Homo sapiens: one gene and its partners. The protein of the gene in region 2 purifies or fractionates together with the protein of the main gene of each other region. This does not show direct contact. Each region holds a gene or a part of one and is shown on either strand. Other genes may lie near its edges.

What was found.
Region 1: the proteins of POPDC2 (region 2) and SLC12A9 purify together in Homo sapiens (affinity purification with mass spectrometry; 3 studies listed by BioGRID and IntAct, with this or other methods). This does not show direct contact.
Region 3: the proteins of POPDC2 (region 2) and LRRC8C purify together in Homo sapiens (affinity purification with mass spectrometry; 2 studies listed by BioGRID and IntAct, with this or other methods). This does not show direct contact.

What each region holds. Positions count from the first base shown.
Region 1 is NC_000007.14:100,850,730-100,854,475, forward strand, and holds the start of SLC12A9 (solute carrier family 12 member 9), read left to right. Parts: upstream 1-1,983; 5' UTR 1,984-2,106; exon of another isoform or gene 2,107-2,289; intron 2,290-3,426; 5' UTR 3,427-3,468; coding exon 3,469-3,649; intron 3,650-3,746. UniProt on the Homo sapiens protein: May be an inhibitor of SLC12A1. Seems to correspond to a subunit of a multimeric transport system and thus, additional subunits may be required for its function. May play a role in lysosomal ion flux and osmoregulation.
Region 2 is NC_000003.12:119,653,946-119,657,691, forward strand, and holds part of POPDC2 (popeye domain-containing protein 2), read right to left. Parts: intron 669-3,746; coding exon 560-668; intron 1-559. UniProt on the Homo sapiens protein: Important for the maintenance of cardiac function.
Region 3 is NC_000001.11:89,631,541-89,635,286, forward strand, and holds the start of LRRC8C (volume-regulated anion channel subunit LRRC8C), read left to right. Parts: upstream 1-1,579; 5' UTR 1,580-1,782; intron 1,783-3,746. UniProt on the Homo sapiens protein: Non-essential component of the volume-regulated anion channel (VRAC, also named VSOAC channel), an anion channel required to maintain a constant cell volume in response to extracellular or intracellular osmotic changes.

The DNA of each region.
Region 1 (3,746 bases), on a different chromosome or scaffold from region 2:
TTTTTTTGAGATGGAGTTTTGCTCTTGTTGCCCAGGCTGGAGTGTAATGGCGAGATCTCAGCTCACCACAACCTCCGCCTCCCGTGTTCAAGCTATTCTCCTGCCTCAGCCTCCCAAGTAGCTGGGATTACAGGTGCGTGCCACCACGCCCAACTAATTTTTGTATTTTTAGTAGAGATGGGGTATCACCATGTTGGCCAGGATGGTCACAATCTCCTGACCTCGTGATCCACCCACCTCGGCCTCCCAAAGTGCTGGGATTACAGGCGTGAGCCACCGTGCCTGGCCCAATTTTTAAAAAAAATTTTGTAGAGATGAGGTCCCACTTTATTGCCCAGGCTGGTCTGGAGCTCTTGGGCTCAAGTGATCCTCCTGCCTCAGCCTTCCAAAGTCCTGAGATTACAGGCGTGACCCACTGCACCCAGCTCCTTGCCACCTTCTTGGTGCCAATCAAAATAGTCCTGAATAAAGTCTGACTTACTGTTTTAACAAGAGTCAGATTTTTTTCTTTAATAAGCGCAGTAGAAGAGGTGAACTGAAGAGGAGGGGCTGCAGTCATTGATGAAGACAAGGTCCAAGGCAAAACCACAGACTAACAAGGTAAGGTGGAGGTTGAGATTTATGGAAGCAGAGTTCAGTGACGGACAGGCCAGGGTATGCCAAGGGAGTGCTTATAACTAACTGACCCTGAAAAAGTTTTTTTTTTTTTTTTGAGACAGAGTCTCGTTCTGTTGCCCTGGCTGGAGTGCAGTGGTGCGATCTCAGCTCACTGCAACCTCTGCCTCCCAGGTTCAAGCGATCCTCCTGCCTCAGCCTCCTAAGTAGCTGGGACTGCAGGCGCATGCTTGAGTTCAGGAGTTCCAGAGAGGCCTGGGCAACATGGCGAAACCCGGTCTCTACAAAATATTTAAAAATTAGCCAGGCGTGGTGTGTGCCTGTGTAGTTCCAGGCACTGCGGAGGCTGAGGCAGGAGGATGCTTGAGCCGGAAATGCAGAGGTTGTAGTGACACGAGATCGCGCCACTGCACTCCAGCCTGTGTAATAGTTCCTGGATCAAAAAAAAAAAAAAAAAAAAAAGGAAATGTATCTGAAACTTTCCAAGCTCCAATTTCCTAATCTGAAAAATTGAAATAGCGGTACCTACCTCACAGAGTGGCTAATTTAATGCAGTGCTATTTGCAAGGGATAATTTATCAAACCTTTAGGCGTTGTTCTAAAGTGCCCATTAAATGCTCACTGAACTCACAGCCTTAGGAGGGAGGTTCGAGTTTATGCCCATTTTACATATGAGGACGCGTTGGCAGGTGGTACTGCTGTTCATGGGATCTGTAAAGAGTGAAGAAGGAGTCTCAGCTCTCAGTAGAGTTCATAGGCTCTAGGATTTCTGCTGGAAGTGAGAACACTGCAGGGAGGCAAGAAAGCGGGCATCAGACGGTGCAAAGCGACCCTGGGCCCAGATCGGCGGCCAATGGCTCCCTCCGGTGGCGGAAGCGAAGAGCGCAGCTGGATCGGGCGCGAAGGGAGGATCCCCGCAGCGGGTGAGGGGCGAGGCTGGGACCCGGTGGAGGTTCTAGGGTTTTGAGAGGTTGGAGGACTAGAACTCCAGAAGTCCCTGAACGAAGTGGGCCGGATTTCCCGTGACGCACCTGGCCCAGGTGTTGCAGCCCCGCCCACCTCCCTGCCGCTTTCCGCCATCCTCACACGCCCCCTTTAGTGGGGTGGCTGCTCACCGCACCTCGGAGCTCGGACTGGGGTCCGGCCCCTGCGGCGACGATTGTTTGTACCTAAGTGAAGGAGGCTCCGAGACCCGCGGCCCACGTCCTGCCGGAGACGCTTGTCTGCAGGGCTGCATTGCATCCCCGGGCGCACGTGGAGCTGGAGCAGCGCAGGCTGGGGAAGAGCAGAGAGGGTCGGGCTTCTCCGGGCGCGCCATGGGGCGGGGCCGAGGACGGGGACCAATAGCGCGCGCGTGCTGGTGGGGGTGGGGACAGGCTCCAGGCCTGGCATCCCGGTAGCCGCAGCTGTCTTTTCCGGCCCCCGTGCACTCTCCGCCCGAGCGGAGCCCCCCGGCTCGCGGGGATCGCCCCCGAGCGCTGCGTCCTGCGGGTGGGTGAGTGAGCGCCTCGCGGCCCCCGAGCTGTGGGGTGCACCTGGCCGGGGAGAAGGATATCTTGGCTCCCTTGCACCCCAACGGGCGCAAAGGGGCAGGAGCCCGGATTGGGGGAGGAGGAGGACCCGGGGACCTTGTGTCGCTCGGTGGGAGCCGGTCTGTGTTTCTGTTTCGCTAGGGTGTGTTTGGGTTGGTAGAGTTTGTGGGGAGGGGTGCCTCGTGTGGATGGGAGGAATCGGGGAGGCTAAGGCGAGGAGGAGGGGGTTTGAGATGGGTTGAGGGAGAGGATTGACGGAGGGTGGGGTTTTGAAAGAGTTGGAAGTTTCTTGTTACCTGTGGGTGCGGTGATTGCATTGGGGGGCTTGGTAGGGGCAGCTCAGGACACCGAAGGAGAGGATGGGGAAGGCTCTCCTGCCCGTAACTTACTTCCCTTTTGGGAGATTTGGTTCCTCTTGCATTGCTAGTTAAGGAAGGAGAGGCTGGAGAAGCCTGTGCCGTCAGAGAACCTTTGCCCCTTTCCAGAACCGGTGCCATCCCTAGTCTCAGGAACATAAGGGAAGGGGTGGCCCCCAGGAGCCGGGAGGGGCCTTGAAACCCCTGCTGACAGGTTTGGGGTACCACTTTTTTGTGGGGCAGTGGCTGGTACCATTTGCAGCCCACGGACTTTTTTGAGTTGCCGGTAAGCAGGGTGTGGGTGCGTTCCTGTTTCCTTGCGGTTGTCTCTTTTTTTTTTTTTATTGACACAGGGTCTCGCTCTGTCACCCAGGCTGGAGTGCAGTGGCATGATCTCGGCTCGCTGCAGCCCTACGCCTCCAGGACTCAAGCGATTCTCGTGTCTCAGCCTCCCAAGTAGCTGTGATTACAGGCATGCACCTTCACGCTTGGCTAATTTTTTTTTTTTTCTTGTGAGACGGAGTCTCACTCTGTCACCCAGGCTGGAGTGCAGTGGTGTGATGTCGGCTCACTGCAACCTCTGCCTCCTGGGTTCAAGGGATTCTCCTGCCTCAGCCTCCCAAGTAGCTGGGACTACAGGCATGAGCCACCATGCCCAGCTACTTTTTGTATTTTTAGTAGAGACGGGGTTTCACCATGTTGACCAGGGTGGTCTCGAACTCCTGACCTCAGGTGATCCACCTGCCTCGTCCTCCCAAAGTGCTGGGATTACAGGCATGAACCACCGAGCCTGGCCAATTTTTGTATTTTTAGTAGAGAGCAGCTCTGTCTTTTGGGGAGGCTTCAGGGTGTTTGATTAGTGGTCTTTGGGGGTGGGCGAGCTCTGTGGGGGAGCTTTTGATGCAACATAATCTCCTTTGCAGGTCACCTAACCCATTTGTGGCTTCCTCTACCTGTGCTCAGCCATGGCCAGCGAGAGCTCACCTCTGCTGGCCTACCGGCTCCTGGGGGAGGAGGGGGTTGCCCTCCCTGCCAATGGGGCCGGGGGTCCTGGAGGGGCGTCTGCCCGGAAGCTGTCCACCTTCCTGGGTGTGGTGGTGCCCACTGTCCTGTCCATGTTCAGCATAGTTGTTTTTCTGAGGATTGGTGAGTGGGTCCTGGGGCGGGTGTGGACTGACTATAGTATGGGAGGACATGATGGGGAGGGGTGGAGATGGGACTGGGATAAGATTAGGAAGGGGAC
Region 2 (3,746 bases):
AGGACTAGAACAGGCACACAGGAGTGCTAGGCTGTGGGGTGGAAGCTGGTGAGGCTGTGGGGTGGAAGCAGGCTTCACAGTGGAAGTGAGGTTCCGTGGTCTCATCTAGAAGGGGAAATGCATTTCAGAGGGGAGAGTAGGGGCCAAGGCATAGAGCTGCAAAACAATGTGGTGTGTTTAGGGAAGTACTAGTGGTTCAGCATGGCTAGTATGAGCAAAAAATATGAAGGAGGGAGAGCTGGAAATGCGACTAGAGAGCACTAAAAGGTTTAAGTTACCCTATAACAAGTGTGGGTTTTTATGTTGTGGCACTAGGGTCTTCCAGAAGAGTTTAAGCATACAAGTAACATGGTCTACCCAGGGGCCAGCATCTTCCTACCCTACCTCACCTATGGCTAGGAGCCCAGGAACTCTTTTCAGAGGAAGAGTGCCCCCGCCTGTAGCTTCACACTGGCAGGGGTGCGAAGGACAGATGTAAGAGGGGAAACATGGAGGCACGGATATTGCTGGGCTACAGTGGGATGGGGTGAGGCGGTGCTGCCACCAGGCTCCCTGTTACCTGGAACACCCCCTCCTCAGAAGGCTGTAGTGATTCCCACTCAGGAGAGTCCATGAACTGGTATGGAAAGATGTAGTGCAGAAACTGCCCATCCTGGCTCACACGAACCCTGGCAAGGGAAGAGAAGAGATCATGTGGGAAAAGGAAAATGGCTCTCCAAGCCACCTATGCTGAAGTTAGGTGTCGCTGATTAACATGAATCTTCCTGTAGAAATACTTTGCCTAAAGCATGGTAAAACCCAAAGCTAGACTAGCCAGCCTAATTACTGCATGCAAGTAGTTCAGAAAAGGAACCCATTGAGACTTCCAGAACCCTCATTTTTCCTCCTCCTTCTCCTTACTGGTGGTTCTCAATTTCAGGCTGCAGAGTAGAAGTCCCAGGGAAGCTTTTAAAAAAAAGCACCTAGGCTTGGGCCTTATCCCAGAGCAATTAAACAAGAATCTCTCTAGGTAGGAACTGGATATTATTAGTATTTACATCTCCCCAGTGATTCTAATGTGTAGCCAAGATAGAAACTACTGCTTAAGAACTCTGCTGCTGGCCCGGCGCAGTGGCTCACACCTGTAATCCCAGCACTTTGGGAGGCTGAGGCAGGTGGATCACCTAAGGTCAGGAGTTCGAGACCAGCCTGGCCAAGAGAGTGAAACCCCCATCTCTACTAAAAATACAAAAATTAGCCAGGTATGGTGGCGGGTGCCTGTAATCCCAGCTACTTGGGAGGCTGAGGCAAGAGAATCACTTGAACTCGGGGGTGGAGGTTGCAGTGAGCCGAGATCACACCACTGCACTCCAGCCTGGGCAAAAGAGCAAGATTCTGTCTCAAAAAAAGAGAAAAGAATGCTGCTGCCTATTTAAGTTTACATTTACATTAATTAAAATTAAATAAAATTAAAAATTCAGTTCCTTACCTAATTACAATATGGGTGTTCAATAGCCACATATGGCCTGTGACTACCATGTTGTACAACATAGATCTAGAACGTTTCTGTCATCACAGAAAGTTCTGTTGGATCCGCTGCTCCACAGATTCTCCTTTCTCCCTTCCCATTAGCTACATGAAGATTCATGCTTACATTTAACCACTTTGTAGACTTTGAAGGAAGTGGCAAGTCTACCATATGCCAGACTCTGCTAGACACTTTACCAGTGTTCTCTTATATAATGTTCACAACACCACAAGGTAGATTATTCTTTTCTGTATTTTATAGCTAAGGAAACTGGTGCTCAGAAGGGTTGAGTGGCGAGCTTAAGGCTACATAGCGATCAAGTGGCGGAACTAAAATTCTATGTTCTTAGCACAACACCATGTTGCCACCCTATTACTACAGCTTTGGGTAGATGGTAGTGGACTCTCCTAGCATGACCCTTTCCCGGACCTCTCTAACCGTAGGTGACAATAACAGCTTGTTTCTTTAGACAATGAGATCCCATGCACCCTATCCAGCTGATGGTCCTAGAGTGAACACCTGACTCAAGCTGAGCCAATCAAACTCCTTCCCTGGGAATTTGGAAATGGAATTGCGTGTAAATCATGCCTTGGATGGGGACAATTATCAGGCATTATTAACAAAACTAACACACTCCTCCCTGAAGGAACTAAAAAAAATTTTTTTTTATCACGTAACTCAGACTTTGAAAAGCATGGGTCCCAATTGGCTATAGAGAAAATAAACTTGAAATCACATAAAATGTCCTAGTAGGACATGTTCTTGTTTCTAGCACTACCTGAGGCTTAGGTGCATGTCTTTCCTTGAGTTTCATAAGAAATCCTTGTATTTTTTTAAATAAAGACCTTTTTTCCCCCTTCTGTTGGCTAGAGTGGGTTACTGTGGCTGCAGCCAGAAATCCGAATTATTTGCTTTAATTTTATGAATATTCTTAAGTCTTAAGTCTTAAGTCATTAACTGCTCTTGACTTGCCCATGACCACAGGCTTGGTTTCACAACTTAAGGGGTTAGGAGCCTTACTATTGCTGCTTGGTGCCTTTGTACCCTTGTGGCTGTACCTAGCCTAGTGCTCTGCCCCTGCAGGGTAAAAAGACTGCATTCCATGAGAACTTGTTAGAACTGATGGCATGTCATTGATGATGCCTGAGGACAGGGAGTGTATTTCAGATGTGAGGCCACATCTGGAAGAAGATTAGAATCCAGTATGGGCTTTATCCTTCCCCCAACCCGACCCCTGCCCAGAAAACTCAGAGTTTCATCTTTAACCTCTCTTCTAAAGTGAGTTATATCAGGCAATAGGGGTGCCTCTATTAGGCAAAGGGGGAAGATGAAAAAGATCTCTAAGGTACACCTTGTTCATTTGGGGGAGATATCCTTCCATTATTTCTGGAGGTTTATTGGCTAAACAAATATTTCTGGAGCATCTCTCATGTTTCTGGAGATCTGGGAATGCAGAGATGGGCACAATCTGGTCTTTGTCTTTGAGGATTTCACAATTTAGTGGAAGTCACAGGCACATAAATAACTGGCTGCAAGTCAATGTGATAGGTGCTATTGTGGAACAGTAACAGAGGAGAGAGAAAGATTGGTTCTCTTTGGGCAGCAGACCTCTCGAAGGAGATGACATTTGAGCTGAATTTTGAGGGATGCAAAGGGTATTGAGAAGCAGATAAAGATGAGAATGAACAAAGACCTGGGAAATCCAGTGTGGCAGTCTGTTCTCCAGTATCTGCTTTCTTCTCTTCCTTAATGGTGCTAGATTTTAACTGGACACATGACTGCAGAGAAAAAAATCAACATTTCTCTACTTCCCTGGCTGCTAGGCATAGGCAAGTGATAAGTCCTGGCCAATGGGATATCAGCACTCCTGAGCCTTGCTCTTAATGAATGCCTAGGTATACATGCGTGTATACAAATTACCAAAGACCAGCACCAATTAAAAAAACAATTGCACCTATTATCTGACAACCTAAAGCTGGAAGACAGGAGCTTTATTCAAGACTCTGAATAAATATGTATGGAAGGGGGAAAAGAAGGAAAGAAGGAAGCAAGAAAGTAAGGATGAATAAATGAACAAAGGAAACCAAGGAACAAACTCACTTGTGTCACCATAAAAGGGGATCAAAACCTCACTGAAAAGCTTCCATAGCAAAGGAAGACAGCAGAAGAGAATGGCGCTGCTGCAGCATATGTCAGCTCCTTAGGCGAGGATTTCGGCCACCCAGGCAAGCCACCAAAG
Region 3 (3,746 bases), on a different chromosome or scaffold from region 2:
TAAAGCTACCTTAGAGAGTATTGCTGCATCTACCCTGGTGACTTACAAGGTACTTGAATTTTTTTTTTTCTAGCAAACTGCTAAAGTTAGCCTTTGCCTTTTTCCCAGAGACTCTCTAGGAATTTTTCCCATCTGCTGACTAGGAGGTAAGCCCGGACCTAAATTTTTGTCTTGTTGTAGGTTAATTAAGACTGGTGTTAGATTCAGCTCCTAAGGCCTAAGAGAATTTAAGGTTGTCTTCTGGGAAGGACACCCAACAGCAGCATTGGAATTGGAAAAAAAGTGTAGGATTTTGCTGAGTGAGCAGGGGGAAAGCAATGTAAAGCCCAAGAGAATATCTTTTGAACAAACGTCCTTTTCATTTTGGTTTAGAAATAGAAACGTGGTAAAAGGAGGCGACTGTTTTCTGAAGGCTTGTAGCACGAAAACAGGCCAACTGGCCAGCAACTAGTTGTCTATCAGTTTCTCTACTCACATACATCTGCCTTTTCCAGACTGCCAGCGCGGAGCACTAGTTTGACTTTGGGTGCTCTTCAAATAGCTGGCATTGATAAGGCATTCCCAGAAGACTGTGTTACTTAGTAATCTTGTCGGTACATTTTTTCACTGGGCAGAGATTTTCCAAACAGAGAGCTGCCAGCTTTCAAGACGTCAGAGTGCTTTTTCATCCTGAAATTGGGTGGGAAAATGGGGAGAAGAAAAGCACGGTTCAGATCAATCAATGAGAGAGAACCCCTCCCTCCATACTCGTTAAACAACAGGTGGTTTTGCTGTGCACCGTCAACTCCTTTATGCGGGAGCTGTAGGCGGGGCATTCCAACTGAGTCTCCCTGGAATCTGCCCCTTAGCCCGTATTGCAGGGGCGGTGCAGTTGGGGATTCCGGCCTGAAAGGAGACTTGGTTGTCAAGGGGCTCAAGGGCTTCATGATCCAAGGATATTGGGTTTTGCTTTTCTCCTTCTCCATCTTCCTCATTCTATCCCACCGTCCCCTCCCCACCCTTCTCTTAGGAGGCCTTCGCTTCTCCTGTGGAGGGGTTATCTTCATCCTGACCCTGGCCTTCGGAGGAGTTCCCAGAAGGGCTATTTTTAGTGGTGGCTGCTCCCCTCTAACTTACCCAGGGGAGGAGCTGCGGTGGCTGAGCCGACGCTGCGCGCACAGCCGCCTGTGGTTTTCCGCGCATTGTGAGGGATGAGGGGTGGAGGTGGTATTAGACGCAGCCGAATCCTCCCTCAGAGTCCGCCAGGTGGGCGTCTCAGGGGTGGGAGTGGCCGCGTCGTGAAGCGGAGAGAGGATTTCTCTCCTGGTCCTGGAGAAGGCCCCCGGCGGCCGGCGGCATCCCTCGCTGGCGAGTCCCGGGAGCGAGGTGGTCTCTGCAGGGGAGGAAGTTCCCGGGCGGCGCGGCCTGCGTCACAGCGGGGCTGGCACCGCGGAGTCGACTCGGCGGGCGGTGGCGACCCCGGGGCCGGGCGCTGGGCGGCGCTGGCTGCCGCTAGCCGGGCTGCGTGCGGGGCGGCGCTGGAGGCGGCTCCGTCCGCGGCCGGGGAGGCGGAGGGGAGGAGGGCTTGCGGGGCTGGGGCGTTAGCTGCGTCCCGGCTGGAAGCCCGCGAAGAGAAGTAGGAGGAAGGCGCCGCCGTGGCCGCGGCCGCAGTGCTCGGGCGCGACAAGCCATGAGCAGCGACCCCGCGGGCGACGCCGCCGTCCCTGGCAGCCGCTGAGCCCGACCCCCAGGCAGCTCGCCGCTCCCTAGCACCTTCTCCAGTCGACACTCTCGCGCCCGGAGGTAAGGGCGGGGGATCCGCGGAGGGATGGAGAGGGGCAGCCCGCAGAGGGCCACCCGCTCGGTCCGCTGTGCGCGCCGGACCGGGACTCGCCCCGCCTCACTCGCGTCCTTGCTTCCCCCCGGCTCTCAGACAGGCAGAATGTGGTTGCCCGCCCGGCGTGTGGTGCTGGGAACCTTCCGCTACTGCGGCTCAGGAGCCCGCCAACCCCTACCCCACCCAATCCGCGCTAGCCCGAGCGGCCGCGCGAGGATCTCAGCCTGGCGCCCAACGCCGCGCCGCAGCGGCAGGTCCTGCAGACTGGGCGCGGGGGTGGGGGGGCGGTCCGCGAGGGGAAATGCGTCCGTGGCCGGGGCGATCGTTGTTCTTTCCTACCTCGAAAATCTCTGAGACCCCGGGGCCAGTCCTTTCCGGTCTATCACCCCCCTGCCACCTCCGAACCCTTGAAGTTAGCACTTTTGGGCAGGGAAAGGAATTGGAAGGTTTCTCGAAGAAACGTGAGAGCACCGTGTGCTCACCTGCAGGACAGGAGGGAAGGGGTTCAGCTTGATCGGGCGGGCCCCAGAAGCCAGGTGTTTAGGCCAGCGGTTGAGGCCAAAACCGCTGCCTTCATCCCACGCCTAGGCTCGCTGATCTTTCCCTTTCCAGCTGGTTCCCACCAATGAGATGATTAGGGATGGAGTTAGCAACTCAGGAGCCTTAGATGTGTTCTGTGGACACGAATGCCTTTCTTTTCTCCCTCAGCCGGTTCTTCCCTCCCCAACCCCCACGCCTGCCCGGTATACAGCAAAGTCCAAACAGTTTCTTCCAAACCTCGCATCCTCCGTAGTTTTGCAACAGCCGGACACCTAGCCCGCATCCTAATGCGGATATTTCAGAGTATTACGGCTAAACTTCCCTTGGTTTCAAATTCCTTAAACATGTTAAAGCCTCAGCAAACGTTAGGAAACATTTTCAGGTTCCCATCCTCAAAGTAAAAAATAAGAACCAATCCATCTTTGTTGGAGTGCCGGTGTTTGGCACGGGGAGGCTTGAATTACCTCCATTTAAAGCAGCCTTTGAAGGAAGGAATAGGTAAAGGAAATCGCAGCCGTTTGTAAGTCACATACTTCTTTCGCGGTAGTGTGAGAAACGTAGCCTTAACCAACAGTCACATTTCCCGACAGGTATGTGATGGTTTCCCAAAGCATCGATGAGGCTTCAGCGTGGGCAGGTCATTAAGATGCCATTTAGACGAAAAAGGAGTAAAAGTGGAGTAGTCCTCTTGGTTAGCACAATGCTGCAAAATCGCCAGAGCCAATAATTTTTATACATTTATAAATTCTGTTTATTTTTAAATAATTTGTTGAAAACCCAAAACGTAATCTGAGCTGCATAAAACTCGCTCAATTCATAAACAATGTGTTGAGTGTGTAAACAAACATTAAATGTATACAGCTCTAGTCTAGGATATTTGCATTTCTTGTGACTTGCTTTAACAGGGAAGGCCAAGGCTATAATTGGTTTGCTTTACTCTGGAGTGATTAAGTTCTGTCTTGGGGTCAGTTTGTTTCCTTTGAGGGGGATGTAGGGCAGTTTTGCAAAGATGGATATTTGCCATGGTTCACATAATAGATTGGGCACAGACAGGACCCATCAACCCAACAATTGTATCAGAGATACCAAGTATATTTAACAATTTTCTTATTAATAAAATCAAGCCTTTATTAATAGTACTAATCTATTATTTCTCAGATTAAGCACTTTAATGAAATGTATTTTTAAAAGGGAATGCTTTTAGTGAAAATAATGCATTAGGAGCTGTAAGATAAATGAATGAAAATGTTGCACTTTATTTCCATGAAGTTTATCTTTTAAAAAACAATACAAAGTTAGAAATATGTTTAACTCCCAAGTGTTCAATTTTTACCAAATTGTTATGATTTTTAATACTCTATAGTATTATTAAGTTATAGTCACCTATGAC